4 separate regions of the Homo sapiens genome follow, and all the other regions are reported to be linked to region 3. The links are microRNA targets in miRTarBase. Many come from high-throughput screens and were not tested one by one. Region 3 holds a microRNA gene; each other region holds the end of a gene's coding sequence. Distances are between the middles of the regions.

Region 1 (7,122 bases), 160 Mb from region 3:
GATCAAGACTATCCTGGCCAACATGGTGAAACCCCAGCTCTACTAAAAATACAAAAATTAGCTGGGTGTGGTGGCGGGCACCTGTACTCTCAGCTACTTGGGAGGCTGAGGCAGGAGAATCACTTGAACCCAGGAGGCAGAGGTTGCAGTGAGCAGAGATCACGCCACTGCAGTCCAGCCTAGGTGATAGAGCGAGACTGTCTCAAAAAAAAAAAAAAAAGGCCAGGCACGGTGGCTCACGCCTGTAATCCCAGCGCTTTGGGAGGCCAAGGCGGGTGGATCACGAGGTCAGGAGATGGAGACCATCCTGGCTAACACGGTGAAACCCCGTCTCTACTAAAAATACAAAAAATTAGCCAGGCGTGGTGGCAGGCGCCTGTAAGTCCTAGCTACTCCGGAGGCTGAGGCAGGAGAATGGCGTGAACCCGGGAGGCGGAGCTTGCAGTGAGCAGAGATGGCACCACTGCACTCCAGCCTGGGCGACAGAGCAAGACTCCGTCTCAAAAAAAAAAAAAAAAAAAGCAACTGCCACTAGCACTGGGAAATTAAAATATTCATAGAGCCAAGTTATCTTTGCATGGCTGATTAGCAGTTCATATTCCTCCCCAGAATTGCAAGATCCTGAAGGGCTTAAGTGAAATTTACTCTGATGAGTAACTTGCTTATCAATTCATGAAGCTCAGAGGGTCATCAGGCTGGGGTGGGGGCCGGTGGGAAGCAGGTGGTCAGTAATCAAGTTCAGAGGATGGGCACACTCATACATGAAGCTGACTTTTCCAGGACAGCCAGGTCACCAAGCCAGATATGTCTGTGTTCTCTTTGCAGTACTGAAGATAACAGCCAGGGAGGACAAGCAGGGCTGGGCCTAGGGACAGACTGCAAGAGGCTCCTGTCCCCTGGGGTCTCTGCTGCATTTGTGTCATCTTGTTGCCATGGAGTTGTGATCATCCCATCTAAGCTGCAGCTTCCTGTCAACACTTCTCACATCTTATGCTAACTGTAGATAAAGTGGTTTGATGGTGACTTCCTCGCCTCTCCCACCCCATGCATTAAATTTTAAGGTAGAACCTCACCTGTTACTGAAAGTGGTTTGAAAGTGAATAAACTTCAGCACCATGGACAGAAGACAAATGCCTGCGTTGGTGTGCTTTCTTTCTTCTTGGGAAGAGAATTCAGGCCGATATTCCTTGTCGTTTTACTCTTTGTCAGAGGAAAGAATGCTGAGTTTTTCTTCTTCCTTTCATTTCACCCTCCTTTTTTGGTAGGTGGTTGGGGAGGCCTCAAATTCCACTCCTAGTGGGGTTTTTGTTGTTTTTAGGGGGGAACATTCAGAAAATGAGAGTATTAATTAGATTTTCTCTGGTACATTTCGAGAGAGTTAGGTTCTACAGCTAAGGTAATGGTACTTTTAGTTTTGAAAAGAGTAGGCAGAGTGTTGAATTTAAAAGCTGAGCAGGCCGGGTGTGGTGGCTCACTCCTGTAATCCCAGCATTTTGGGAGGCCAAGGTGGGCAAATCACTTGAGCCCAGGAGTTCAAGACCAGCCTGAGCAATAGAGTGAGACCCCATCTCTACAAAAAATTTAAAAATTAGCCAGGCATGATGATGTGCACCTGTAGTTCCAGCTATTCAGGAGGCCGAAGTGGGAGGATGGCTTGAGCCTGGGAGGTGGAGGCTGCAGTGAGCTGGTATTGTGCCACTGCATTCCAGCCTGGGTGACAGAATGAGACTTGTCTCAAAAAAATAAAAACTGAGCAAAGTGAAGAAAGGTTTGCCATGCAGACAAACTACAAGTTCATGTGCCTTTTGTGTACTAACAAGTATTTGGAAAACAGACATAGTCTTTGCCTAATCCGGGTCTGAAGGGCCTGGGCTTGTATTTTACTAAGAGCTGCTGGAGAAGATGCCGGCTTTTTGTATCTGCTCCTGAAGAGGGTATTTGCTCTGAGCACAAAACACCAGGCAATAAGTTCACCTTAAACAGAGTAAACTGTTTTCCCACCTGTTACCCCCATGGATCCCAACCTCATCAGATTCTATGACACTCCAACACCCCACACCCACACATGCCACTGTGCCTTTATTTCTGCTGTTCCTTCCACCTGGGGTGTCCTTCCTCTGGTCCTCCCGAGGACATTGTACTGATTTCTTAAGGCTCATATGAACACTACTTCTTTCCTGGTACCTCATGCCTAGTAACAATGAGTCCCTTCGTAGGCAGTGTTGCACATGTAACTGTTATAATAGCACACAACACGAGTTGCCTATGTGCAATTGCTTGTGTCTACGTCCCTAGACTGCAAGCTCTTTGAGGGCAAATGCCCCTTCAGCACTCTCAGAGTTGATGCCCCATAAATGTTGGTCAAATTGCCTTGGTCTTGTCCAGAAATTGGGAAAAGAGGAAATGAAGTAGTAACTTGCTCCTTGCGGAGGAAAGGGGGAGGCTCCCAGTGAACTAATGGCAGGGGGTTGAGGTGGGGGGAGAGCCTCACCTAACCACCTCCAGTCAAAATCTTCTCTACCTGGACTTTAAATACCAGGAAAACCAGGGGGTAGAGAATGACAAGGATGAAAGTAAGAGCGACAGGAGACAGCACTGGCCCAAACCTGGCTCCTGAGGTCTGGGATGGTGTTGCGGGTTGCTAGGAGGGGAAGTAGCCCATTCTCAAGGTGTCACCGTAACACAGGTAACACAGGGAGTTCTCATTGAATGAAACTGATTGAAAAATGACAAAAACACAAGGCAGAAAATGCCCCTGGGACTTACAGAACACTTGGGGATGGATGCAGGAGCTGAACTGGCTGCGACCACTGATGGAACAGCCACTTCTGTCACTGATGGAATGATGATTTGAAGCAGATCAGAGACAGAGGCCGCTCTTCTTGCAAAACCAAAAGCAAGCGAACAAAAAGCAATGGCCGATGGCAACAACAGAAGCTGGCCACGGGTCTTCACCTCTCCAGACCCAGCAGCAGTTTCACTTCTTCTGGTTGGACATCGGGGCAATCTGTGTGTGGGGCAACTTCCTAAACACCAGGAAGAAACAGAATGGATTCCCCATCCGCTGCTCCTCCAGGACGCGGCTGCTAGCAGGAGGAGATGAATTCTAGAGGAGAGGATCAGGAAGAGTGTTCATCTGAAGGGAGAAACAGACAACGGTGACCTCTGCTAAGATCCACAGGATGAAATCTGTTCTTATTAAGGTCACTGTCTAATACAGAGAAGTGGACCCGCAAGAATGAAGAGCCCCACTGCCCAGCTGCATAGGGAGAGCTCTGAGACTCTAAAACTACGTCCTAGTGTAATTTCCACACATCAGAAAGAGGGGGAGTAAAATAAAAAGCAAGTATCCCTTGAAAGAAAGAGCAGCAGGGCCGGGCGTGGTGGCTCACGCCTGTAATCCCAGCACTTTGGGAGGCCGAGGCGGGTAGGATCACCAGGTCAGGAGATTGAGACCATCCTGGCTAACATGGTGAAACCCCATCTCTACCAAAAATACAAAAAATTAGCCAGGCATGGTGGTGGGCGCCTGTAGTCCCAGCCACTCGGGAGGCTGAGGCAGGAGAATGGCGTGAACCTGGGAGGCGGAGCTTGCAGTGAGCTGAGATGGCACCACTGCACTCCAGCCTGGGTGACAGCGAGACTCTGTCTCAAAAAAAGAAAGAAAGAAAGAAAGCAGCATGGAGACAAAAGGCTAAAGGAGACAGAGGAGACAGAAGACATTTTATTCTCACATGTTAGGGTTACAATGAGAACTCCCAAGTTCCAAAGGTTCAAATAAAAATAGCATTTTACAAATTAAAAAAAATACAATTTATATACACAGTGGAATTAGCTAACATCATACAAACAAACAGTGCAAACAGAAAAAAGGAAGCTGCGACTGCGGCAATGGCCAAGGTCCGCAGAGCTGTGGTGCAATACTGCACATCAATACTGCAGGGCTGGCGAGGCCACCTTGGGCCTCTCGAAAGGCTTTCCTGTCACCCAGGGTCATGTCAGTGCATAATTCTGCATCACAAATGCCATACAGTGGACTGGGTCCTGAAAGTGTCCCTTCCAGCTGGGAACTGTTAAGTTAATCAAGGTCAGGAGCAAATCATCCCTCAGCACAAGGTCCCAAAGCCAGGGCCGGGGGCCCATTGGCCCCACTCCCTGATCACCTCGCCTAGGGGCCATGGAACACCAAGCTGGAGATGAAACACAAAACACCACTTCTTACCACCCGTAGGCTCCCCATCCACAGATCTGCTTTACTGAGGCGACTGATCACTGGGTGATGGGGCTGCTAATGGGTGAGATGCTGAAAAGGCTGGTTTCTAATGGACAGAAATGGAAGGAGCGAGGGTCACAGTTGATTTGTCATGAGTGGAGAAGTTGCTGTCTTTGGGCTTATCTGGAAAGCGCAGATGCAGAGAGAGGAGAAAAGGAAACCACGTGCCTTTGCATGGGGCCTGGGTTTGGGGCCTCCTTGGCAGCCGTCCAGTCAGTTTAGGGGAGGGAGGTATTTGCATTCTACTGTCTATCTCTGGGCTAAACTGATGGGAACAAAATATCTGGTGACTTAAACACAACAGGATGTGCACGAGGGATGAATTCCAATAACATTCACCGGGGCAGCCTCAGGGCAGGCGGCTGCTGATCCAGCCCTCGAGAGGCCGGGGTCCTCCTGCAGGGCGTTAGCTCTGCCAGCTCCAGGAAGGGGCGGGGAGAGGGGACAAAGTGTCTGTGACAGGTGATCACACCATTCTCCTGACTTGGACAATTGGCTTCCTTCTTAATAAAAGGAAGAAATAACGTGATCAAGCTCTGAACACTGCCATAAAACACAGCAGCAGCTGGCCAAATAGTAACATTTAAATAAGAATTGCCTTTTTGGTCCTTGTGATGTCCTGCGCTATTTCCTGGGAGTATTATCCCCATTTCATAAGTCAGGTGCATTCTGGGAAGCAGAAACATTTAGAAGTCAAAGCAATTTTGGTCAGGGAGATAAGAAAATGGGGAAAATGGAGGGGCCACAATCAGCTAGAAAAGACCTTGAAGCAGCCCCATCTCTGGAGTGGAATTATTCCCTAGAGTGTGCTGAGCGCAAGATCTGGACCAGCAGAGCCAGGACTGATGCTCACCCCAGGGTGAAAGGCAGACTTGGCCAAGGAGGTCGCCCAGGGCTGGGCCTGAGAGCTGTGCTGCCAGGGCCAGGTGCCGAGGCCCGTGGGCAACCTCCACGGTTTTAAAAAAAACTAAACGTAAATGAAGGCCATCTTGAGCCAAAGCACGTCTGCCCCAGGGATGCCTGCTGGGACTAATACCATGTAGAAGGTGGGGGAAGATAAGCATGAATGCCCAATGCCCAGATGCTCACTTTGGGTGCCTAGTCAGAGGGGGCGGGCCAGCCTGGAGAAGAATGACGTCACTGAACGACAGGGTGCGCTTCCCATGCTTCATGTGAAACCTTCAGGCACGTGCTGGCAGGAAGCATCTTCCCCACGCACCCTCCCTGCGGCACAGGAGGCCCTCCTGAAGGGCCTCTGTATGTAAGCTTGGGACAGCTAGTGCAGGGGAGAGAGAGGTGTTTGTGAAGGGCAGACACCCTCTTCCTCAAATAGGCCATCTGCTTTATCATAGCACATACCTTTCAGTGGTCACTGGCTCAGAAGTGCTTCCTTTCTACTTTGGAAAAAAAATGGTAGCATTCCCCAGAGTTGAGTGAAGCTGCTTTATCCAGGAGTGCCCTGCTTTCAGCTAACTTTGGTGGGTGATGCCAAGATCCTCTGAGCTCTGCCTGCTTCATCAGGAAGACGGAGATCAAAACTTAAGGAAATGAAAAAGGATCTGGGTAGAAACGTGTTACTGGGAGACTGGGAATAATCTGCAGATGGAGAGAAAGCTGCAATGTTAAGAATTAGGGTAGACGTAAATCTGATCCTATTATCAGATTGACCATCCAGGGGTTATTAGTGTGATTTTAATCCTTTATGTTTCTGGTGGGCGGTGGTTCTAAGGAGAGTCAAACCACAGGGCAAGACCAGAGCCTCTGCTCACACCCAGGAGCAGAGTGTTTCCCTTAAAACCAACTAGCGAGGATACCGTGTTAAGAGTCCCAAATAAGGGAAGGACTCTCTGAAATATTGAGAATTTTCTCAGTGCCCAATTCCTAAACCTAGTCATGAACTGTATGTTGTCACTGGCATCTCCCCAGCTTTTGCCTTGGCCAAGTCCCTCTCACACATTTAAGGCAACAGCCGGGTTCTCTAGGAAAGTAGCAAAGATGGCCAGGAACACTGCTCGGAGTGCAGCCCGGGGCCCGCCTGATTCTACCTCTGCTTCTGGCTCTGGTGGAGCCAGGGGTGGGCCTGTGCCAACACTGGAGGGTGGGAACACAGGGAGCAGGAAGTGGGAAGATCCTTGCTGGGGAAGTCAGAAAAGTCCAAGCTCTGATGGTTCAAAACCACCCCCAGGACCTCTGACCAGCAAGGTGTCCGATGACTCCCGGCTTTCTGAGTGAGTGGGTGACTGGGAATCTTCCATGCCCCGGAACAGCCCCAGCCAGCTGTGCCCGCCGGAGTGAGCATGATTTGCCTCCCCAGGCAGCACCAGGAGAGGGTGGGCTGGGCTGTCAGATGGTCTGGTAGTGCTGCCTCAGCCGGGCCTGCAGAAATTCATAGGTGAGGTTGTGCCGTGTGATGATCCCCACGATCTAGGGCAAAGAGAAGGCCTGAGTCACCTTCAGGGTAAAACCCGCTGGCGAGAACAGGAGTGACAGGAGCCGGCCCTGTTAGTTTGTCACAGAATGTGGAGGCCTGGATAGTGCACAGCCAGACACAGCTTGATTGGGATAAACAGCTAACGAGGGCTCACACACTGGAGGCCAAGGGGACAAGGTTAGCTCCAAAAAGGGCTTGGGCCAGCTGGCATCTGAACTAAAATGTCCTTCCACAGGGCACATGCTCAGCGCTCAGCTCCCATCATGACCAGCCTGCTTCACAGATGTGCAAGCGGTGGGGCCCTTGAAGTCTCCTGAGATTATGACCCCTGCCATGCCTCATACTCACCACCTTGCAAAGTGACCTATGGGAGTCATTTGTTACAGGTCGTTACAGTGGTTCCCACGTGTCACTGTTG
Region 2 (7,122 bases), not on the chromosome of region 3:
AATGAAAACATTTGCTACTTGAAATCCTTCAGATTCCCCATCGCCTACCTACAGGCAAAACTCTCAAGTTCTTTTGTATGATTTAACCACTATCTACCTGTCCAACTGAAATCTACCCTTCAGTAATATTATACTTGCACCTCCCTTCATAAGCTATGCTACAAGTTTGGTTATGCAGTTGCCCACCTTTTAAGGTTCAAGCCTTGTCTTCTCCAAAGAGCCACCTCTGACTGCCTCACAGTAAGCTTAGGGCCCGCAACTTACCTGTAACTTTTGTTGCACTTATGGCCTTTTACAACTATCAATTTATGTATGTGTCTGTTCTCACTGGTTTATAAGCTCCCTGAGGACAGAGCCTTGCTTGAGTCATCTGTCAGCAGCCCAATATGGGACAAAAAGTGCATGCATTGTAATTACTGAACAGAACTGATAGAGGCTCAGCAATTTGCGCTCCATAGGTCTAAGTTTGAACTTTTCTAGAAAAGGATTTGCAGGACGATCTGACGAATCTTGGGCTTCCAAATTAGTTCCAACAGTTCTAGTATTTTTTTTTTTTTTTGACAGAAGCAAATAAGTAAGTTTTACTTTGTGATTAAAACAAAAGTGAAATGCATTTAGTCCCAGGAAATGTCAATCCTTTCTGCATCTTACTTTTTTTTGCTGTGACCTCGAGATTCTCTTGTTCTCTTCAGTTGTATTGGTCCATGATCACTCATAGCTTTCATACACATATATACATCTGAAACTCAGAAAATTCATTAGGTAGGAACTCTTTGGATGCATCTCCTTTTTTAACCTCATTGGGATGATTTTTCGTTGCACCATCATTTTATAGAGCTTCCTAGCACTGCTGAGCATGCAGAATTTTTGCAAATGCAATCCAGAGAAACAGACTTGCTATATACTAGCTATTTGAACTTGTCTGAGCTTATGTGGCATGGTCTAAAGAATACTGAAATATTTCTGGCATACCTCTTAATTGCAGTCACTTTCTCCAGGTTGCTTTATGGATTAAATGAGATAACCTACTAAAGGACTCCAGTAAAAAGCTAAAAAGGTAGCTAGCTTTTGAGGTGTTGTGGCAGACTGGCATCTAGTGGCCAGCGATAAAGGTGCAGACTAGTGTCCACACCTAAGTGGGGACAGTGCAGGCTGTAATGTCCATACCTAGTGGGGACATCAATGGGGTATTTGTCAGAGAAGCTCCATGGCATAGTTTGGACATTGTTTCTGGCTGTGCAGGTTCAAACCCAGAGTCTGGCTCTCCCAAAGATTATCTGAGTTATTCTATTATTTTACAAAGTTTGAAATAGCCATTAGATACCCTTACAAACTTATCATTTTTGTGATTGATTTTAAGTCTACTGAAAATGTCAAAAGAAATCCAAAACTGATTGCTAGTAACTAGGCCAGGTGTGGTGGCTCACACCTGTAATCCCAGCACTTTGGGGCCGGGGCAGGCAGATTGCTTGAGCTCAGGAGTTCGAGACCAGCCTGGGCAACATGGCAAAACTCCATATTTACAAAAAATACAAAAAATTAGCCGGACATGATGGTGTGTGCCTGTTGTCCCCGCTACTAGAAGGCTCAGAAAGAAGGATCACTTGAGCCTGGGAGGCGGAGGTTGCAGTGAGCCAAGACTGTGCCACTGCACTCCAACCTGGGCAACAGAGACCCCAGCTCAAAAAAATAAAATTAGTGTTAACTTGTACTGTTTAGCCACATTCATTAAGTTTTTAATTTTAACTCTACTATCGCACAACCAGGAATGTACAAGAGATCTGGAGCCTGATTTGCATGGCAGGAAGGAGACCACGTATTTTTGTTTGGGATGGGTTTTAGCCACTATCAGAGACATAGTTTGTTTCTTAGGGGTTCGGTCCCAGTAGTATGATACTTAGTTCATTTAGGAACTTCCTTTTTTAACGGCTAAGAAAACATTTTAGCTACTAAATGATATGCAAAGATAACTTTCCAAATTTAAGCTGTACTCAAAAATCCACAGAATCTGCAAAACTCTCAAGTTTCTATATTTAAATAGAAATGTGTGTTGATATACATACTTTAATCAGTCATTTCTTGCTTTCAATATATTTTATTCTGACGAAGTTACAAAAGTAGATACAAAATACTTTTTTTAGAAGTACAGTTAACTGACTTAGAAAAATAGATAAAGCCCCTAAGGATTTTAAAACACAACATAAATTTTTATGTAAAGAACATTTAAAAATATTTTAGATGGTAACCAAAACTAACTTACACAAACTATTTTTGATGTAGAATAGAATGCTGTTCTATAATAAGAAGTCTGTAGCACACTGGTAATCCATTTGGATCTACAGAATACTTGTTTGGAACAGAATCTGATAATGAGAGAAAACTCAAATGAATGTCAGTGCAGTTGCTTCAAAAAAATTACTGCTACCACATGTACTATCATCCCCCAAGGCCTTTTACAGTCTGAAATATCAAAATTGAAAGCAAAAATAGGATGACCAAAGGACTACTATTTTACCTCTTTTCAGAACTCTACAATAGTAGAAACTAAATTCCCTTATGGATCTCAGGGGGAAATAATGTGCCTGTTGAAGGGGCTCAGTGTTTGGTGTCCAGGCTGGCATTTTTCAGGTGAGGGTTTCATACTGACAGGAGGCAGGCTCCTAAAACAAGGCGGTAGCACCAGCACCATGACTAGGGCTGCTTTAAAACAAATTTCTAGGACTTACGCTCTTTGGGCCTGATTTGTTAATGCTTATGAGGTAATGATATTATGTTTGAGAAGCTCTACTTCTAGTATACCTCAATGCTCAGAGAGAAAGCCAACAATACAATCAGGAAACCACAATATTGACAAAACTTAGTACTACCACCAAGATTGTTCCTCTTGCCTTGGCACTACTAAAAAACTTTACCTTTGTTACTAAAGTCATGGTGAATACAGATTTTGCATTTCTCATGTAAGCAGCTATATAAGCTAGGGTTCTACAAGCCTTAGATGAAAGGAAAAACTTTGCTGGAAGCCCTGTAAAAATCACTTTATTCACAATCTGAAGAATGAAAGACAAATTTGGCTGTCAATACAAAAACTGTAGTACAAGGAAGTTCAACTGTTTAAAAATCTGCACATCACTGTACAAGTGTTTTTTGAAGGCCTGAAAATTAAAGCACCATAGGATTAACTGCATAATTTAGCAAGCACTCTCTACCCCATGACTGTAATCATGTATGAAGAGCAGAGATCAGACACTGAGAGGAGATGGCTTCTGATTAGCAAGGGGGAAGGGAGTGAGTGTTATGGAACAGGCAAACCTTGGGCATGGGGAGATAAAAGTGAGAAGAGTCAAAAAGATTGATTTCTATAGGCCGGGCACGGTGGCTCATGCCTGTAATCCCAACACTTTGGGAGGCTGAGGCGGGCGGATTGCGAGGTAAGGAGATGGAGACCATCCTGGCTAACACGGTGAAACCCCATCTCTACTAAAAATACAAAAAATTAGCCAGGCATGACTAAAAATAGAAAAAATTAGCTGGGCGTGGTGGCGGGCACCTGTAGTTCCAGCTACTCAGGAGAGGCTGGGGCAGGAGAATGGCATGAACCTGGGAGGCAGAGCTTGCAGTGAGCCGAGATCCCACCACTGTACTCCAGCCTGGGTGACAGAGTGAGACTCTGTCTCAAAAAAAAAAAAAAAAAAGATTGATTTCGTCAAACTGTTATCAAAGGTTGGCCCTCTAGCCAACTCAGGAAGGCGCCATCCTCTTCCCATTATCTCCCCTTCCTCCAATTCTCCTCCTCCCCTTGGCTCCCTAGCCTTGGAGGTAAACACTAATATTTCAGTGCACTGTTGGTTAAGCCAGATTGGCTTGGGAACCTGGTAATGTTTTTATTTTTATTTTAAAAAAGGACAGTCTTGAGTCTCAAAATACCAACACATCTCTGATTTATGTCCCATTTATAAGCTGCCTTTACTACTGTCCTGACATGTGATCGTCTTTCATTTGCTTTGGAGCTTAGTGGTGAAGAGAGGGAACATTTCCATAACTGAAAATAAATGGAGAAAAGTGGTAACTCTTTTGTTTGAGAATATTTGAAATACTAGAAATAATGAGGAAAGTACAAGCCTAGCTGAGAAACTAGTTTCATCACTTGTGGACTTAAAAAAGTAAAGCTAACAGGGTTTAAAGTTGAGAGGCAGTTCACATCCTAAGTGATACCTAGAAACCTGCTTTCTTGTTCGCAAATGATCAACATGAACATACAGAATGGCTGACATTTGGACCTTTGGATAAGCTTAAAACATGGATTGTGGAATGTCTAATAGAGGGCTTTTCTCTCTTTTTTTTAATAATGACTGTCCCACACTTTAATTCCTCAATGATATGTGGATGCTAACTAAATCAGATGAAATGTTTTCTTTAAAATTCTGTATATATTTAAGAATTTCTAGGAAATGATTATTTAAAATGGAGTTTCTAAGTAATTATTTTCTTTATAGTTTAGTGGAGTAAGAAAAATAAATCTAAAAAAAAACATCAAATCTAACCTTTATCAAAGCCATCGAGGAGGTTGGTAAAATACTTTGCAAAAATCACAGCTCTGAACCACATAGAATGCTGATGAACTTAAAGCTTTGCCAGTTTGGCAAGTCTTCCAGTATAATACTTGTTGTGCCTCAGTACATTTTAAATAGACAGCTAGAGTTTACTAAATCCTAGGAATCAAATAAAAAATAAATGTTTTCTTCACTGAAGGGGAAGGCTTTTATATCCCAATAGAAATAGAGGAATTTCAAGTTTTGATACAAAAACAATTAAAACAAGATAAAACCCAAGTGGAAGCTCAGTCCATCTTTTGAATATTAACAAAATGAGGATTTTTTTAAAACTTATTTCTCCCATTTTGTTTCCTTTAAACACATACACTCACTCACTCTCTCAAGAATAGGTAGCACACCAAAACTTTATCTGTGTTATAAGATGTGTACACCTTCATGGTTTATTGTGGTTTTCCTTAAGTTTTATCCTTATTAGGATGAAGTTCATGCATTTCTACACTACTCTTAACTAAGGCTCAAGAGACAATAAAAACATAGAAGTAATTTTTTAATAAAAGGAAATAAAATAATCAAGTACTCTGAGTATTTTCCTCCATTCTCTTATCCAGAATTTTAAGGCCTCTGAAAAATAATGAAATAATAAAAATAGTGGTTTTGAGATCTAAATTTATTAATATTTTGGATTCCTTTTCTCAGCCAAAAGCTACTATCTGAATTAAGCTTTTCAGTTTAAAAGCCTGGAAGACCATCCTTAGAAGACATTAAAAAATTACTTCTGATACACACACTCCTAATAATTTAGATAGATATGAAAACAATCTCAAATAAAGATCAAAAAATAAAGTCCCTGTAAAAATAACTTTGGTTGCTCCCACCCACACGTCATATGATGATTTAAACTGCAATCATGAATTTTGAAAAAATAGACGTATCTTATCTATAAAAACACTACCATACAAACTTGAAACTAAAATGTTATCTGAAGTGACACAGATGTTCTAAATCTCAAGGATACTGAAAAATACATTTTTTATTCGTAAAATAAAAGAATAAAACCAATCTGATTGTGTTATTAGGAAATTTGTTCTGGAAACTTATTCATAAATTATTGATGGAAATTCTTAATGTCCATTGTGCTGTCACCTAAAACAGATTCAATCATTTTCTTGTAAAGAAATGACTGAGTAAATGAGTAAAAGAATAATAAGTAAATTTATAAGCTACAGGTTAACCATCACATATTACAACCAAGTATGACTATGTGATAACAACAAGAGTGGTCACACAGTACTTAAGATTTGGCTGTGTCCTTAAGGTCTTACTCGGAAACTATCACACCAACCTACCTTTGGGATAATTTTATCAGTAGACACAGGCAATGGGTATCTTTTTATCCTGTTTTCTTAAAGTTTGTATCACTAGTCTATAACAGATAGCAATGAGATAGTTCTAGCAATAGATGAAGCAAGGGGGTAACTGTGTTCTAGAAGAAACATTTATCTGTCTTTTGATCCAAGTTTCTCTATTAATTCTTGAAGAGGTGCCAGCTCACGCCTATCAATCAGATTAAACTCCTAAAAAGAGAAGAAAAATAACAATTAAAAATGGATCTAAAACTGAAACTCTGTAAATGTCTTTTGGAGAAGGGATTCCCAACTCTAGTTTTCTGAAGTCCAAAAGAATGATGAAATAACCTCTGTGAACATTTTAAAGTAGGCATTTATTCTTTTTCTTTTTTTTTTCTTTTTTGTACAGATGTGGTCTATGTTGCCAAGGCTGGTACTGAACTTTGGCCTCAAGTGATCTGCCCACCTTGGCATCCCAAATCCCAAAGTGCTAGGATTACAGGGGTAAGCCACCACGTCCAGCCCTCTCTTTTTAAAAATATAGGTATGATATTGTGATATAAGTATTTGGTCTTCCTTTTTCTTTACACACAGCTCCTAAAACCCTTGTTGGAATCACCAGAGTGCTAAGAGTATCTTGTATGCTAATGAGATGACTGGTGGCTGGAGGCTCCTATAAAGCTTCAGGATGGGAACTGGTCAACCTTCAGCCAGCCCTCTCCCCTTCCCAGATCACAGCCTCTGGGGAGGGGAAAGGGCTGGCTGAAGGTTGAGTTGATCATCAATGGCCAATTATTTAATCAATCATGGGCAAGTAATGAAGCCTCCATAAAAACACAAAAAACAGGGCTCAGGAGAGCTTCCAGATAGCTGAACACGTGGAGGTTCCTGGAGCATGGCATGCCTGGAGAGAGCATGGAAGCCCCTTCTCCTTTGGCCCTACACATCTCTTCCATCTGGCTGTTCATCTGTATCTTTTGTTAACATCTTTCATAATAAACAGGTAGAGATAAGTATTTCCCTGAGTTCTATAAGCGGCTCTAGCAAACTAATCAAACCCAAGGAGGGGGTTGTGGGAACCCTGGTTTATAGTCAGAGGTATAGGTGACAATGTATTACTTTTGATTGATATCCCAAATGGGGGGCAGTCTTGTGGGACTGAGCTCTCAAACTTGTAGGATCTGATGCTACCTCCAGATAGACATTATCAAAATTGAATCAAA
Region 3 (7,122 bases):
CGGCACCCATTAACTTGTCATTTAGCATTAGGTATATCTCCTAATGCTATCCCTCCCCACTCCCCCCGCCCCACAACAGGCCCCAGTGTGTGATATTCCCCTTCCTGTGTCCAAGTGTTCTCATTGTTCAATTCCCATCTATGAGTGAGAACATGTGGTGTTTGGTTTTTTGTCCTTGTGATAGTTTGCTGAGAATGATGGTTTCCAGCTTCATCCATGTCCCTACAAAGGACATGAACTCATCATTTTTTATGGCTGCATAGTATTCCATGGTGTATATGTGCCACATTTTCTTAATCCAGTCTATCATTGTTGGACATTTGGGTTGGTTCCAAGTCTTTGCTATTGAGAATAGTGCTGCAATAAACATACGTGTGCATGTGTCTTTATAGCAGCATGATTTATAGTCCTTTGGGTATATACCCAGTAATGGGATGGCTGGGTCAAATGGTATTTCTAGTTCTAGATCCCTGAGGAATCGCCACACTGACTTCCACAATGGTTGAACTAGTTTACAGTCCCACCAACAGTGTAAAAGTGTTCCTATTTCTCCACATCCTCTCCAGCACCTGTTGTTTCCTGACTTTTTAATGACTGCCATTCTAACTGGTGTGAGATGATATCTCATTTTGGTTTTGATTTGCATTTCTCTGATGGTCAGTGATGGTGAGCATTTTTTCATGTGTTTTTTGGCTGCATAAATGTCTTCTTTTGAGAACTGTCTGCTCATGTCCTTCACCCACTTTTTGATGGGGTTGTTTGTTTTTTTCTTGTAAATTTGTTTGAGTTCATTGTAGATTCTAGATATTAGCCCTTTGTCAGATGAGTAGGTTGCGAAAATTTTCTCCCATTTTATGGGTTGCCTGTTCACTCTGATGGTAGTTTCTTTTGCTGTGCAGAAGCTCTTTAGTTTAATTAGATCCCATTTGTCAATTTTGGCTTTTGTTGCCATTGCTTTTGGTATTTTAGACATGAAGTCCTTGCCCGTGCCTATGTCCTGAATGGTAATGCCTAGGTTTTCTTCTAGGTTTTTTATGGTTTTAGGTCTAACATTTAAGTCTTTAATCCATTTGAATTAATTTTTGTATAAGGTGTAAGTAAGGGATCCAGTTTCAGCTTTCTACATATGGCTAGCCAGTTTTCCCAGCACCATTTGTTAAATAGGGCATCCTTTCCCCATTTCTTGTTTTTGTCAGGTTTGTCAAAGATCAGATAGTTGTAGATGTGTGGTATTATTTCTGAGGGCTCTGTTCTGTTCCACTGGTTTATATCTCTGTTTTGGTACCAGTACCATGCTGTTTTGGTTACTGTAGCCTTGTAGTATAGTTTGAAGTCAGGTAGTGTGATGCCTCCAGCTTTATTCTTTTGGCTTAGGATTGACTTGGCAATGCGGGCTCTTTTTTGGTTCCATATGAACTTTAAAGTAGTTTTTTCAATTATGTGAAGAAAGTCATTGGTAGCTTGATGGGGATGGCATTGAATCTATAAATTACCTTGGGCAGTATGGCCATTTTCACAATATTGATTCTTCCTATCCATGAGCATGGAATGTTCTTCCATTTGTTTGTGTCCTCTTTCATTTTGTTGAGCAGTGGTTTGTAGTTCTCCTTGAAGAGGTCTTTCACATCCCTTGTAAGTTGGATTCCTAGGTATTTTATTCTCTTTGAAGCAATTGTGAATGGGAGTTCACTCATGATTTGGCTCTTTGTTTGTCTGTTATTGGGGTATAAGAATGCTTGTGATTTTTGCACACTGATTTTCTATCCTGAGATTTTGCTGAAGTAGCTTATCAGCTTAAGGAGATTTTGGGCTGAGACGATGGGGTTTTCTAGATATACAATCATGTCATCTGCAAACAAGGACAATTTGACTTCCTCTTTTCCTAATTGAACATGCTTTATTTCTTTCTCCTGCCTGATTTCCCTGGCCAGAACTTCCAACACTATGTTGAATAGGAGTGGTGTGAGAGGGCATCCCTGTCTTGTGCCAGTTTTCAGAGGGAATGCCTCCAGTTTTTGCCCATTCAGTATGATATTGGCTGTGGGTTTGTCATAAACAGCTCTTATTATTTTGAGATATATCTTCTCTAGTTCTTTTAATTGTGATGTTAGGGTGTCAATTTTAGATCTTTCCTGCTTTCTCTTGTGGGCATTTAGTGCTATCAATTTCCCTCTACACACTGCTTTAAATGTGTCCCAGAGATTCTGGTATGCTGTGTCTTTGTTCTCGTTGGTTTCAAAGAACATCTTTATTTCCGCCTTCATTTCATTATGTACCCAGTAGTCATTCAGGAGAAGGTTGTTCAGTTTCCACGTAGTTGAGCGGTTTTGAATGAGTTTCTTAATCCTGAGTTCTAGTTTGATTGCACTGTGGTCTGAGAGACAGTTTGTTATAATTTCTGTTCTTTTACATTTGCTGAGGAGTGCTTTACTTCCAACTATGTGGTCAATTTTGGATTAGGTGTGGTGTGAAACCCCCCAACATCTTATACAATGTTGTGGAGCCTACTGTATGTTATTAAAATGTGTTGACAGGGCTTCAGATTAACACACTGGTGATTCTTAGGGCTTTTTGGTTGTTGTTATTTTTGTTTCTTTGTGGCCAAACTTAGGGCTATTTTATCAAGCACTTTCTATATGACACATGACTTTTTCTATTTAATTAAATATTTATAGTAATCCTATAAGCTAGGTATATTTTTTTTCCTTTTACAAATGAATTTGAAGCTTTAAAAGAAAAGAAAAAAAATCATACAGCTGATAATGGTGGAGAAAAGATCCCAATTCAAGCTTGCCTTTCTCTCTAGTCTATTCTTAACTCCTTTGTAAATTGCTGGTTGCCATTTCACCAAGTGGCCTATCGAGCTGACCATGTCTTTCTTTTTTTTTTTTTTTTTTTTCTTTTTTCTTCTTCTTTTTTTTTAGACAGAGTTTCTCTCTTGTTGCCCAGGCTGGAGTGCAATGGCACAATCTGAGCTCACTACAACCTCCACCTCCTGGGATCAAGGGATTCTCCTGCCTCAGCCTCCCGAATAGTTGGGATTACAGGTGTGTGCCATCACGCCCCGCTAATTTTTGTATTTTTAGTAGAGATGGGGTTTCGCCATGTTGGCCAGGCTGGTCTCGAACTCCTGACATCAGGTGATACACCCGCCTCGGCCTCCCAAAGTGCTGGAATTATAGGCATGAGCCACCACTCCTGGCCAGCCATATCTTATACACAGTGATCTTAACCAAAGCCTCATACTCAAATTTAGTTTGCAAGACGTTGCTGAAGATAGAACGCACTGCTGATATGGCTATTGAGAGGAACACAGCCAAAGACAGCTAATTTGTCTTTTCTTGCTGCTCGAGGAAGACTTTAAAATTTGAACCTGGCAGCATAGGTTGATAAAACTGAACTGCAACATGTGCTACCCTTCAAGAAAAAGAAAGGATAGCCCAGAGGGTAGAGCCTCAGGCCCTGAGGGCAGAGGCCTGAGCCAAAGCCTTCAAGCCTGAAGGAATTTGTCCTACTGGATTTCAAAATTGCTTGGGATTAGTGATTCTTTTCTTTCCTCCTTTTTCCTCCCCGGTTAAATGGGAATGTCGATAACGGTTACCCATGCTTGTCCCACCATTGTATTTTGGAAGAAGATAACTTGTTTTCTAGTTTCACAGGTTCACAGATAGAAATTTTGCCTCATCCTGGTCCATATCCAGAGTCTCATTTATACCTGATTTAGATAATTTATATGATGATGAGATTTTGGACTTTTGAATTGAAAATATATAAATGAGAGTTGAGACTTGATTTCATGCTGCTATGGGTTGAGACTTTGAGGATGTTGGGATTGGGTTAATGTATTTTGCAGATGGGATGGATGTGAATCCTTGGGAACCAGAGGATGGCCTGTAATAGGCTGAACAATTTAACAATGCCCCTCCTCAAAGATATCACATCCAAATTCCTGGAACCTGTAAATGTTATCTTACTTACAAGAGAAAAGGGTATTTGCAAATATAATTAAGTTAAAAATCTTAAGATGGAGAGATTTTTCTGCATTATGTGGGTGAGCCCCAAACGCTATAATGAATGCATCGTTAAAAGAGAGAGGCAGAGGGAGATTTAACACAAAGAGAAGAGAGAAGGTGATGTGATGACCTCAACAGAAAGAGAGAAATTTGAAGATGCTATGCTCTATCTTTGATGATGGCCAGAGGAGCCATGAGTGAAGGCGTACAAGAGGGGTCTTGCCACTGAAAAAAATAAGAAATGCCAGCATCCACCAGAAGCCAGAAGCGGCAAGGAATGGATTCTCTCCTGGAGCCTCTGAAAATGAACATGGTACTGTCACACTTCGTTTTCAGCCTACTGATAGTGATTCCCGACTGCTGACTTCTAGAACTGTGAATCAATTGCTATTATTTTAAGCCATTAACTTTGTGGTAATTTATTACAGCAGCCACAAGAAACTAATACCTTTGGTTTTTCAGCGTTTCCTATTTTACTACTGTGAGGGGGCTTATAGATTGCAAATGATGGAGCAAACAGCAGTGTTTCTCAGATCACTAGAAGTCTGCAGCAATAGGCTTAGTATTCACATTATAAGATTGTTATAAAATTGTTCTAATTTTGTATTTGCCTTCCCTTTGGTTTCTAACATCATCATTTTACATTATCTTAACTTTTTTTAAATTTCAGAGAGATCCAAACATTGGTTAAAACTTAGCTAACACTAAGGGTGCATATAGTTGAAACTGTTGGAGCTGTTTACTACAGCACTTTCTATGCCCTTCTAGTTCTGACTTCTAACCCTGATCTAGAGCCACGATGATGTATTTCCCTCACCTTCTTTGGTCACAGAAGGAGGACATTTCACCCAGATCTGCGGCCTAATCACAGGCCACATTTCTGAATAGGCCACGGATCTGGGCAAAATGTCCTCTTTTCTCAGGAGCTCCCCAAACAATAAATCAGTAAATCATATGAATTTTTGCATGAAGTTTTATGAATAGTGGCTTTCTTCTGGGAATACCTCCCTTTTTTAACTTCCTCTGATTTTTTTCTGGACTATGTATCAATTTTTTTCTTTAATGTTTCTTCTCTCTTTATGCTGATTATCATCTCTTTAAACTTACCCAACTCACAGAAAGCTACAAATTTTTGCACTTCCCCATCCCACATGCCTATAGCAGAGTCAACAAACCATGTGAGCAGCAGAAAACTCATGTCCTATTTAAAGAACACGCTGCTTTCTGAAATGAACATGGCAACTAATCTGCCAATTAATTATTTGTCAATAATGAAACTGCAGCCACATTGGCTTTTGACGTGATTGTAATATTCCAATATTATACTAAAATTTCATGTTCTGGGAGCCCTGACAACTTTCAGTTAGATGAGCTCTAATTAGAAGTTTCTAGTGCTCAGTACTTTCCACTATGAACTAGCAACTACACATAGAGATCTACAATCTGATCTTTCATCATGAAACTTGAGATATAAGTACCTTGATGCTTCAACAGAGCTAAACCAAGGCTCCACCTCTTCCTAATCATGCTCCAACCAGTATTTTTTTTTAACTTAATGCCTTTTATTCATTCAACAGCTTGCTTTGCAGAGCTCACAGCTGTAACAGATGTGTCCTATGGTAAGCTCTTCCACAGTAACTGTAGCCTGTTGGTCATGAGCTTCCATTTGTTGAACTCTACATTGTGACTGACAAACTTGGCTGCACCTTAAAATTACCTGAAGAGCTTTTAAAACTTGCTGTCAATTAAATCAAATTCTCTGAGAGTGGGACCTAATGCTCAGTGTGTTTTTTAAAGCTCCCAGTTTATTTCAGTGTGTGGCTAAAGAACCACAACACAATATCCTAAACTTCTCATTACTGATCATTCTTTCTTCAATGTTCTTTTTCTTTATTCATCATCACTTAACATTTCCTCTAAGGCTTTATTAGCATAGTTCTATAATTCCTTAGAGTTAAAGAAAATTCAGATATTTTTACATCATTGAAAGCTAAAACTTTGTTACTTACATAAGTGCTTAAAAGGCATGCAATGCCCATAAATTCTGTGTTAGATTCAAAATAGTTAACCTTATTTTATACATTATAGAAATTCTAAGGTTAATTTTTTAAAAATTAGGTCTTAAAATGCTTACATTTACAAATCTGATCAATAGTTGCAACCTCTTGTTACTGTTTGCTTTTATAAATTGACCATTAGATGCTTGTGCTCATGAGTTGACACATTGAAATTATGCAAGGTTGAATTTTGAAAAATCTCTGTCACCATATTTAATGGTTCAAGGGAATGAAAGGATTCTAGTTACATAGGCCTAAAGGACATAATGAAATTTAAAATTTGTTTCCCTTAGAAAAGATTAAGATATATTTTCTTAAAAGATATTAAGAAAGGTATTCTTCCATATCCTAAGTTCCCTTAGTAAGTTTCCATGATTAGCATCAATTGTTGAAGTGAAGTTAATTTATGTGTGTCTTACCGAATTTACTGTGGATAAAGGATGACTCAAATAAGTATACACTTGGCCATCTGTTTTTGCAAGTTCTGCATCCACAGATTCAACCCACCATTGATTTAAAAAATCCAAAAATAAAAATAAAAAATCAAAATCAAAATCAAAAAACAATACACTACAACTATTCATTAAGCATTTACATTGCATTAGGTATTATAAGTAACCTAGAGATGATTTAAAGTATCTGTATATAGGTTATACGAAAATACTATATCATTTTATGTAAGAGACTTGAGCATTCGTAGATTTTGGTAACCACGGAGGTCCTGGAACCTTCCATAGATACCAAGGGATGACTGTAATTACTTGGAACCAGCCCTGACCATGATCAGTATACTCATTTACCAATTCGCTTCCATTTGATACTATACATTCACAGGACCATGCAGAGGAGGGCAGGGCTAGCATTTACAAATCAGTCTTTTCCAACTCTTCCAAAGAGATGATGTGTTTCCCAGACTTCCCATTTCCCGATGACTTCCCCAACTTTATGCACAACAGCAAGATCCAGGAATATATCATTGCATTTGCCAAAGAAAAGAACCTCCTGAAGTACATACAATTTAAGGTAAGATGTTATCAACAATTTAGCTCTTG
Region 4 (7,109 bases), not on the chromosome of region 3:
GTAGAGACACAGTTTCACCATACTGGCCAGTCTGGTTTCGAACTTCTGACCTCGTGATGCACCCGCCTCGCCCTCCCAAAGTGCTGGGATTACAGGCGTAAGCCACCGCGCCCGGCTGAAGTAAATGTTTTCTTTAAAATGTTTTGTTTCTTGTAGAAAAGTTGTTTGTGGATGTTTTTTCATTGAATCTTCAGAGTAAATCTGTCCCTCTTAAGCATGAGATCTGTGTTGCATTTTCTTCCATTTATTCCATCTTTCGTGTGTCTAGCATGTTGTCTTGCATGCTACAAATGCAAATGTTTACTGAATGAAGACATAAATAAGTATAATACATACTTGTCAATTTTTAAACATTGAGTTAGAAAATAAAGCTGATTATGAGGCTAAAGTTTAATTAATTTTCTGAGACATAATTAAAGCTCTGGGTTTTAATGAATCGATATTAATAGAATATAGTAATTGTAGTAATTTAGTACTGATTAAGAGTAACCTATTAGATATCTTTCTCTTGCAAGTGAAATCTGTTTAAATACTTCTATGCAATAACAAAGTTAAACATTCATATGAAATATCTCCAATAATAAAGGCAAATACCTTTCAAATGGCAGGGTTTCTACTTAAAAATCACAAGCAGATACTAATTTTTCAATGATATATTTTACATTGGAGTCACAAGAGTAATCTGTTACTTGAGTAGGATAAATTATCTCAAGCATTACAAATGCTTAAATATCAAATATGTACTTATTAGTCCTTAATCCTAAAACATAACTACCAAAGGTTTAATTTATTCTATATTCTACTTATGTCTACATTTTCTCAAGGTTTAAACACATTTACCCAGTAAGGAAACAAGTACATTATCTCAAATGATTTAGGGATTATGTTCCCAACCAAAATCTGGTAAATAACTTTTCAGATAGCTGAGACTGCTGAAGTCAGCTACCCCATCAAGGCTATAACTAACCTTCTTCACTGTTTCTGTGGTTTTGCAATTCTTTTCCATAAGACACTTCAAGTCTATTACACTCAAAAACTACTTTGAGTTCATTCCATTGGATCGTTCATGCTCTTAATTATATGCAACCTATTTGAATAGGAAGAATCCTATATTCTTTTCTTATTCTATCTGGTAGGGCTACAGCTTTTTTGAATTCCAGGCAACAGTCAGGGCTTTGTCTGAATCTATGGTCACAGGCTACACCTGGGGAATTCGCCTTCAGCTCACCTGTTCCTGTAGTAAATATTCCGTAACGTGCCGAGGTCCTTCTGGCCCAGCTACTTGCACCTGGTGATCAGGCAGGTACAATGAGCCAGAGCCTCCAAACACACTCAGGTGGTAGGGAGCGAAACTTAGAAGATAAGTTGGTGCAAAAGTAATTGCTGTTTTTACCTTTAAAGTCCCGCCCCCGCCGGACCTGGAAAAGGATGGAGAGGGGGTCTCGTCTGACTCCGCCCCCCAAGGGGAGGGAGATTTGCCTCTGAGCATGGGAAGCATGACCAGGTTTGGATCTAGGGTGCTGGGGTCCTGGTGGAGCTCCAGTGGGCCCCCTCCCTGCACCCCTGCGATTCATCCAACCTCCCTACACCCTCAAATGACAAGTTCAGCCCCCCAAAACCCCCGGTGACGAGTCCAGCCGTGCTCCCATTCTTCACAAAGGGTGAGGACGGACTTTCAAAGACTCAGAGATCCCACGGGTGTGGGTTGGAGACCTTCCTCTACCGGTTCCCAGCTCCCTTACCTGAGCACACGACTTATGCGCCATTTAATTTTCCATAAGAAATCGCTCTCATGTACTTGTTCTGTGCCATTACTTCTAATGGCAAAAACACCAGTTACTTTTGTTACCAGTGGAGGGTGTCCAGGCTCTTGGTGTCTTGAACTAAGAACTGAACAAAATGCACAAAGCAAGGAAAGAATGAAGCAAAAAAAGCATGCATTTACTGAAAATAAAGTACCCTTCACAGGCTCCAGGACTCAAGAACCAATTAGAGGCTTAAGTGAAACAACCAATCAGAGGATGAATAAAAATTTAAATAGCCCTTCCACCCTTCCACCACTTCCACCACTTCCACCACTTTGTGAAGTCACAACAGGTACACCCTATGCAAGCATCTGATTGGTTGTGGAAAGCAACCAATCAGAGGCTAAAGTGAAGTTACAAAGTTACATTTCTATGCAGGCGACTTGGCCTGCGATCCGTCTGATTGGTTACAAAGTTACATTCCTACGCAGAAGCAACCAGAGATACTTTCAATTTTCCATGTGCCACGCAGAAAGGTGTGGGGGAGGGGCAGTTGAAAGGGAGGAGCCATCTGGTACTTTTGTTATTTAGGTCTGGAAAATTGGGGTTTTCCTTTTGATTTAGTTCTAGGAAGTCAGTGTGAATCGGCCTTAGTTTCCTTGCCTCCAGACCCTATTCTCCTGCCTCACTTTTGCACCAACCTCATACAACAACCCATACAGAACTTGAAGATCCAGGAAGCCTCTGCCTCCATCCAGGAGCCGCTTCATCCTCTACTCGGTGTAACTATCTCTGAGATTCCACATCCTTTGAGATTAAAAACACTTTACATCTTCTGGGTCTGTTGACGGGTCCTTCCACCAATCACATCGCTGTGCTTCTGTGACAACTGAACACAACTGGAAGTGAAAAACAACTCCTCATTCAAAGGGGTTTAACGTAAGTAAAGGGAAGTTAATGTCCCATGTTTCTGAAATATTCAGAGGTAGGGCTCATTTCAGGAAAGGCATGAACCAGCAGCTCAGTTGGCCACACACCTACCCCAGATCCAAACGCTGTTACTAGGGTCTAGCTCAGAAGAGGTCACAGGTGCCAATCCAATATCCAGATGGAAATTATTCTCCTTGGAACGAACCCCAACAAAAATCAAGAGTCACGAAAAATGGGGAAAGAGAGAATTTATGCTGGGAAGGCATAAAGTCCACTACAGATAACATAACAACAACAACAAAATTCTCTCTCTCCCCCTCTGGCTATGATATGGTATGAGACTATACCATATTTCATTTCAAGAATGTTCAAAGCAGCTGGGCATAGTGGTGCACGCCTATAGTCCCAGCTACTCAGGAGGCTGAAGCAGAAGTATCACATGAGCCCAGGAATTCAAGGCTATAGCATGCTATGATCATGTCTGTGAATAGCCACTGCACTCCAACCTGGGCAACACAGCAAGACCCTGACTCATTTTTTAAAAAAGGTCAAAGCAGTGCTGTTTAAAACAAAAAAACTGAAAGCAACTTTAATGTCCAACAATATGAAGTAAGGTACATAATTCATGGTACACCTTTATAATAAAACATTACATCAGCATTTCTCAATCTCTTAGGTCTGAGAACCCTTCCATACTCTTAAAAAAAAATCACTGAGGACCCCAAAGAGCTTTTATTAATATGGGTTATATCTATCACTACCACTTTAGAAATTAAAACAGACATTTAAAAATGTTTCTTGTTTTATTTAAAAATAGCAGTAGTAAACCAAGTACACATTAACATAAATACTTTTAAAAAACATATTTTTAAAAACTGAGAACAGCAGCATTGTTTACATTTTGCAAATCTCATTGTCTGGCTTAACAAAAGTGGCTGTATTCTCAGATCTACTTCTGCATTCAATCCATTTTGATATGCTGTTTTGGCTGAAGTATATGAAAAAAATCTGACTTTGCACAGGCACGTAGTTGGAAAAGAGAAGAGTATTTTAATAGCCTGTTCAGATAATGGTGGACATTGTTCTCTGAAATTTTACCAAAAAGTGGACAAGTAATAGTTTCTTAAAGATTAGTTGCAGTGTGTAATCTGAAACTATATCAATAAACTTTTTCATACTCTGTTATATTCAAATATATCAAATCCATTGGTCCATCTTGTACTCTGAACAGATCTTTTACCCAGTCATGATTTCTTTTTTTATTTTTGAGACGGAGTCTTGCTCTGTCGCCAGGCTGGGGTGCAGTGGCGCAGTCTCAGCTCACTGCAATCTCCGCCTCCTGAGTTCAAGCGATTCTCCTGCCTCAGCCTCCCGAGTAGCTGGGATTATAGGCACGCACCAACACACCCAGCTAATTTTTGTATTTTTAGTAGAGACGGGGTTTCACCATGTTGGCCAGGGTGGTCTCGATCTCCTGATCTCGTGATCCGCCCGCCTCGGCCTCCCAAAGTGCTGGGATTACAGGCGTGAGCCACCGCGCCCGGCCTCAGTCATGATTTCTTAACATCACATATTAGTCATCCAGAACATACTGATTCACTGAGTTATACGGATCTTCGAAACACAGAAAAAATCTTTATATAATATCAAAAACTCACATTTGTTAATTACTATCCATCTCATTAGAAAAGGCTTTATGTAAGGCTGTGCATGGTGGCTCACACCTGTAATCCCACTATTTTGGGGGACTGAGGCGGGAGGACTGCTTGAAAGAAAGAAAAAGAGAAAGAAAAAGAAAGAAAGAGAGAGAGAGAGAGAAAGAAAGAAAGAAAGAGAAAGAAAAAGAAAGGAGGGAGGGAGGGAGGGAGGGAGGGAGGGAGGAAGGAAGGAAGGAAGGAAGGAAGGGGAAGGGAAGGGAAGGAAGGAAAGAGAGAAAGAAGAAGAGGAAGAGGAAGAAGAAGGAGGAGGAGGAGGAAGGAAGGAAGAAGGAAGAAGGAGAAGAAGAAGAATCAGAAGAAGAATTAGTAGTAGTAGTAGTGAAAGCGAAGAGAAAGAGAAGTCTTTATGTTAAGGAAAGCTGTCAAGCTTCCAGTGGAGGAACACAACTTTTCCAAAATTATACATTTTGCTAGAAATCTCCAATTTTATCATTGGCACAACAAATACCAGTTGTTTTCCGTGAAGAGGCCAACTTAGTTCAATTTTGAGAAAATGTCTGCCAAACATCCAAATCTAATAACCAATCATCGTTTTTCATTAGTCATTCTTTTCAGTGAAAATGGCAAGCCATGAAAAAAAGCAGCAAATTCAATTGGCAACTCAAATAATCAAACAAGTGCTTCTCCTGGAGACAGCCTCGTACCTAGGCATGCAGCAGACGTGTCTGTGCGTACTTGCCACTCCATCACACAGGATATTCACAGGGTATTGCAGATGCACACACAAAAGCATGCAAATGCAGAAGCCATGGCTGGACAACAACATATCACATATTTAATAGGCGCCACTACCTTCTGGTAATGCAATGCAGAAAAATGGGAATATACGAGACTTTTATATTTTAACTAAAAACAAATGAATATAAAAAAGTCTGGTGGGATACACAAAAGAGGTTGACTGTGATTAGCTACTAGTAAAACTATGAATGATTTTTATTTTCATTTTTCTCACTTCCCTGGATTTTCTAGTTCTTCTATGACAGATATATTTGTTTCTTAACAAGTTATTTTTATTTACAAAAAAGCCAATCAAAGGCTTTGAAATGGATGGTGAACTGCTTAAAGTTAAATAATCATCGTTTACCCAACTCTGTGTCACAGTATAGGTTTTAAATTAAGTCACATGTGCTACATAAGAGAGATTAGAATCAAATTCTGACATCCTGGAAAAATAAAGGTACTTAAAATAATTAAGTAAATGAAAGCTAAAAAATATATATATAATATTCAGTATGAAAAACATTGTTTTATTACTTGAAAAATAATAGAAATTGTATATAAAATACAAAATATACACTTGCCTAGTGCAATTGGTCTCCATTTTACATTTTTTACATGTTTTTTCCCTATTTAATGGCACCCAAAATGCGGTTTCATTTTCACTGCCCTGGTCAACTAATACCATTTAACAACGTATTTAAGAACTTCTTCAAAAGACAGTAAAAACAATTTGTAAAATAACTATGCTTTCTTACATTTACAAAACAGAATTTTGATAATATATGAATATTTTATATCACATAATTACCATGTAACTACTAATCTGTTATCTATATCAAATCAGAGCACATAACATTTTCCAAATACACTGTTTTAATAAAGAGATTAGAAAACAGGACAGTAACAGTTTCTTAAAGCAATCTTACAGGAAGTCTAATTTAATATTCTGTTAGGTGATGTACTCACGTAGGCTCCCAGAAGACCCAGAAACTACATGAATTGCGGAAGGCTGATTTAAGATGCCAGTTCTTCAATAAACAGTGAACTTTGTAATTAGAATGATTTTTAAGCCAAAATACTACTCCTTACTCTTCAGAAATAAAATATAGCTATCCTCTTATAATACAGCAAGAAACATAATTGTTCTGGTAATTGCCAGCTTAACTAAAAAGACCTCCCCTTTTCGTTTTGTCCATTAATTTCTTGCTGGTATCACTTCCTTTGGCAAACCACACAGGTAATCGTCTCTTTCTCTCTGCAGATGAAGTCTGTAGGAAATAGAAAGAAAAAGAAATCAAATCTTTGTACTACTGAGAAGGGGTATTAGTTGCAAAAAAGTAACATAAGTTCCTGAATACACACCCATCCTTTCTCCCCCATCCAAACAAAATAGTGGTATCTATATAATTTATTTCTGGATCAAAAAGTAAATAAATATAAGACACACAAAATCACTACATCATTTCTTCAGGCAATTACTTGCCATCTCATCATGTAGTCTTATACACTCAACACACCTCATTCAGTAAGTAAAAATCTGGACATTATTTCAGATCTGTGTCCCATGGTGTACTTGCTTTGAGTTGACCAAAATGGTGAATTTAATGTTCTGAGGAAGGAACATGCCTGGGCATGTATACATACACAAAGAGTTATATTAGGCATGTGAAAAGAATATAGCTTCTAACATCTACAACGGTAGGTAGACAGACTGGTCCAATCAGCACCCTGTAGAGTGGCCAAGGCATAGTACGCTTAACAAACATTCGCTAAATAAATGAAAAAAATAAAAGTTTCTTGTCTCATAGACTCATCTAAGAATCACTACAGATCCACTTCCCAGAAAAAAAGAGAAACATACACGTGCACAACACTTTCACACACATTTCAGCAGCTCACGTGCCAAAGAGCCTCTAACCCTCAGGTTAAACATCCTTGAAAAAAAAATAATTTAAGGCTGGGTGAGGTGGCTCACGCCTGCAATCCCAACACTTTG

Evidence for each region. The annotated mature microRNA hsa-miR-1295b-3p reads AAUAGGCCACGGAUCUGGGCAA and lies in region 3 at 4,897-4,918, shown strand. An mRNA with a match to its seed (bases 2 to 7 or 8) in the 3' UTR can be bound and repressed. Matches are read on the target gene's strand: a 7mer-m8 pairs with bases 2 to 8, a 7mer-A1 pairs with bases 2 to 7 and ends in A, and an 8mer does both.
Region 1: miRTarBase lists CLCN6 as a target of hsa-miR-1295b-3p. Seed matches in the 3' UTR shown: 7mer-m8 at 5,603-5,609.
Region 2: miRTarBase lists MOB1A as a target of hsa-miR-1295b-3p. Seed matches in the 3' UTR shown: 8mer at 3,358-3,365.
Region 4: miRTarBase lists WRN as a target of hsa-miR-1295b-3p. Seed matches in the 3' UTR shown: 7mer-A1 at 4,062-4,068.

What each region holds. Positions count from the first base shown.
Region 1 is chr1:11,839,718-11,846,839 of GRCh38, reverse strand. CLCN6 (chloride voltage-gated channel 6) reads right to left here. Exons shown (of 23, transcript NM_001286.5): 23 at 3,710-6,697. The coding sequence ends at 6,617. NPPA (natriuretic peptide A) reads left to right here. Exons shown (of 3, transcript NM_006172.4): 3 at 826-1,131. The coding sequence ends at 831. It also overlaps NPPA-AS1. Among named protein-coding and RNA genes, the nearest start is that of NPPA, 4.5 kb to the left of the region's middle. RefSeq lists an enhancer at 1-21.
Region 2 is chr2:74,150,519-74,157,640 of GRCh38, forward strand. MOB1A (MOB kinase activator 1A) reads right to left here. Exons shown (of 6, transcript NM_018221.5): 6 at 2,010-6,127. The coding sequence ends at 6,050. It overlaps BOLA3-DT (BOLA3 divergent transcript), which reads left to right. Exons shown (of 3, transcript NR_045636.1): 3 at 1-1,871. Among named protein-coding and RNA genes, the nearest start is that of BOLA3-DT, 6.1 kb to the left of the region's middle.
Region 3 is chr1:171,096,881-171,104,002 of GRCh38, forward strand. MIR1295B (microRNA 1295b) reads left to right here and starts at 4,859; the gene lies at 4,859-4,918. FMO3 (flavin containing dimethylaniline monoxygenase 3) reads left to right here. Exons shown (of 9, transcript NM_001002294.3): 3 at 6,905-7,093. It overlaps MIR1295A (microRNA 1295a), which reads right to left and starts at 4,926; the gene lies at 4,848-4,926.
Region 4 is chr8:31,172,267-31,179,375 of GRCh38, reverse strand. WRN (WRN RecQ like helicase) reads right to left here. Exons shown (of 35, transcript NM_000553.6): 35 at 3,238-6,381. The coding sequence ends at 6,274. It overlaps LOC105379358 (a long non-coding RNA gene), which reads right to left and starts at 2,301. Exons shown (of 2, transcript XR_007060884.1): 1 at 1,743-2,301; 2 at 1-1,288. RefSeq lists an enhancer at 6,128-7,109.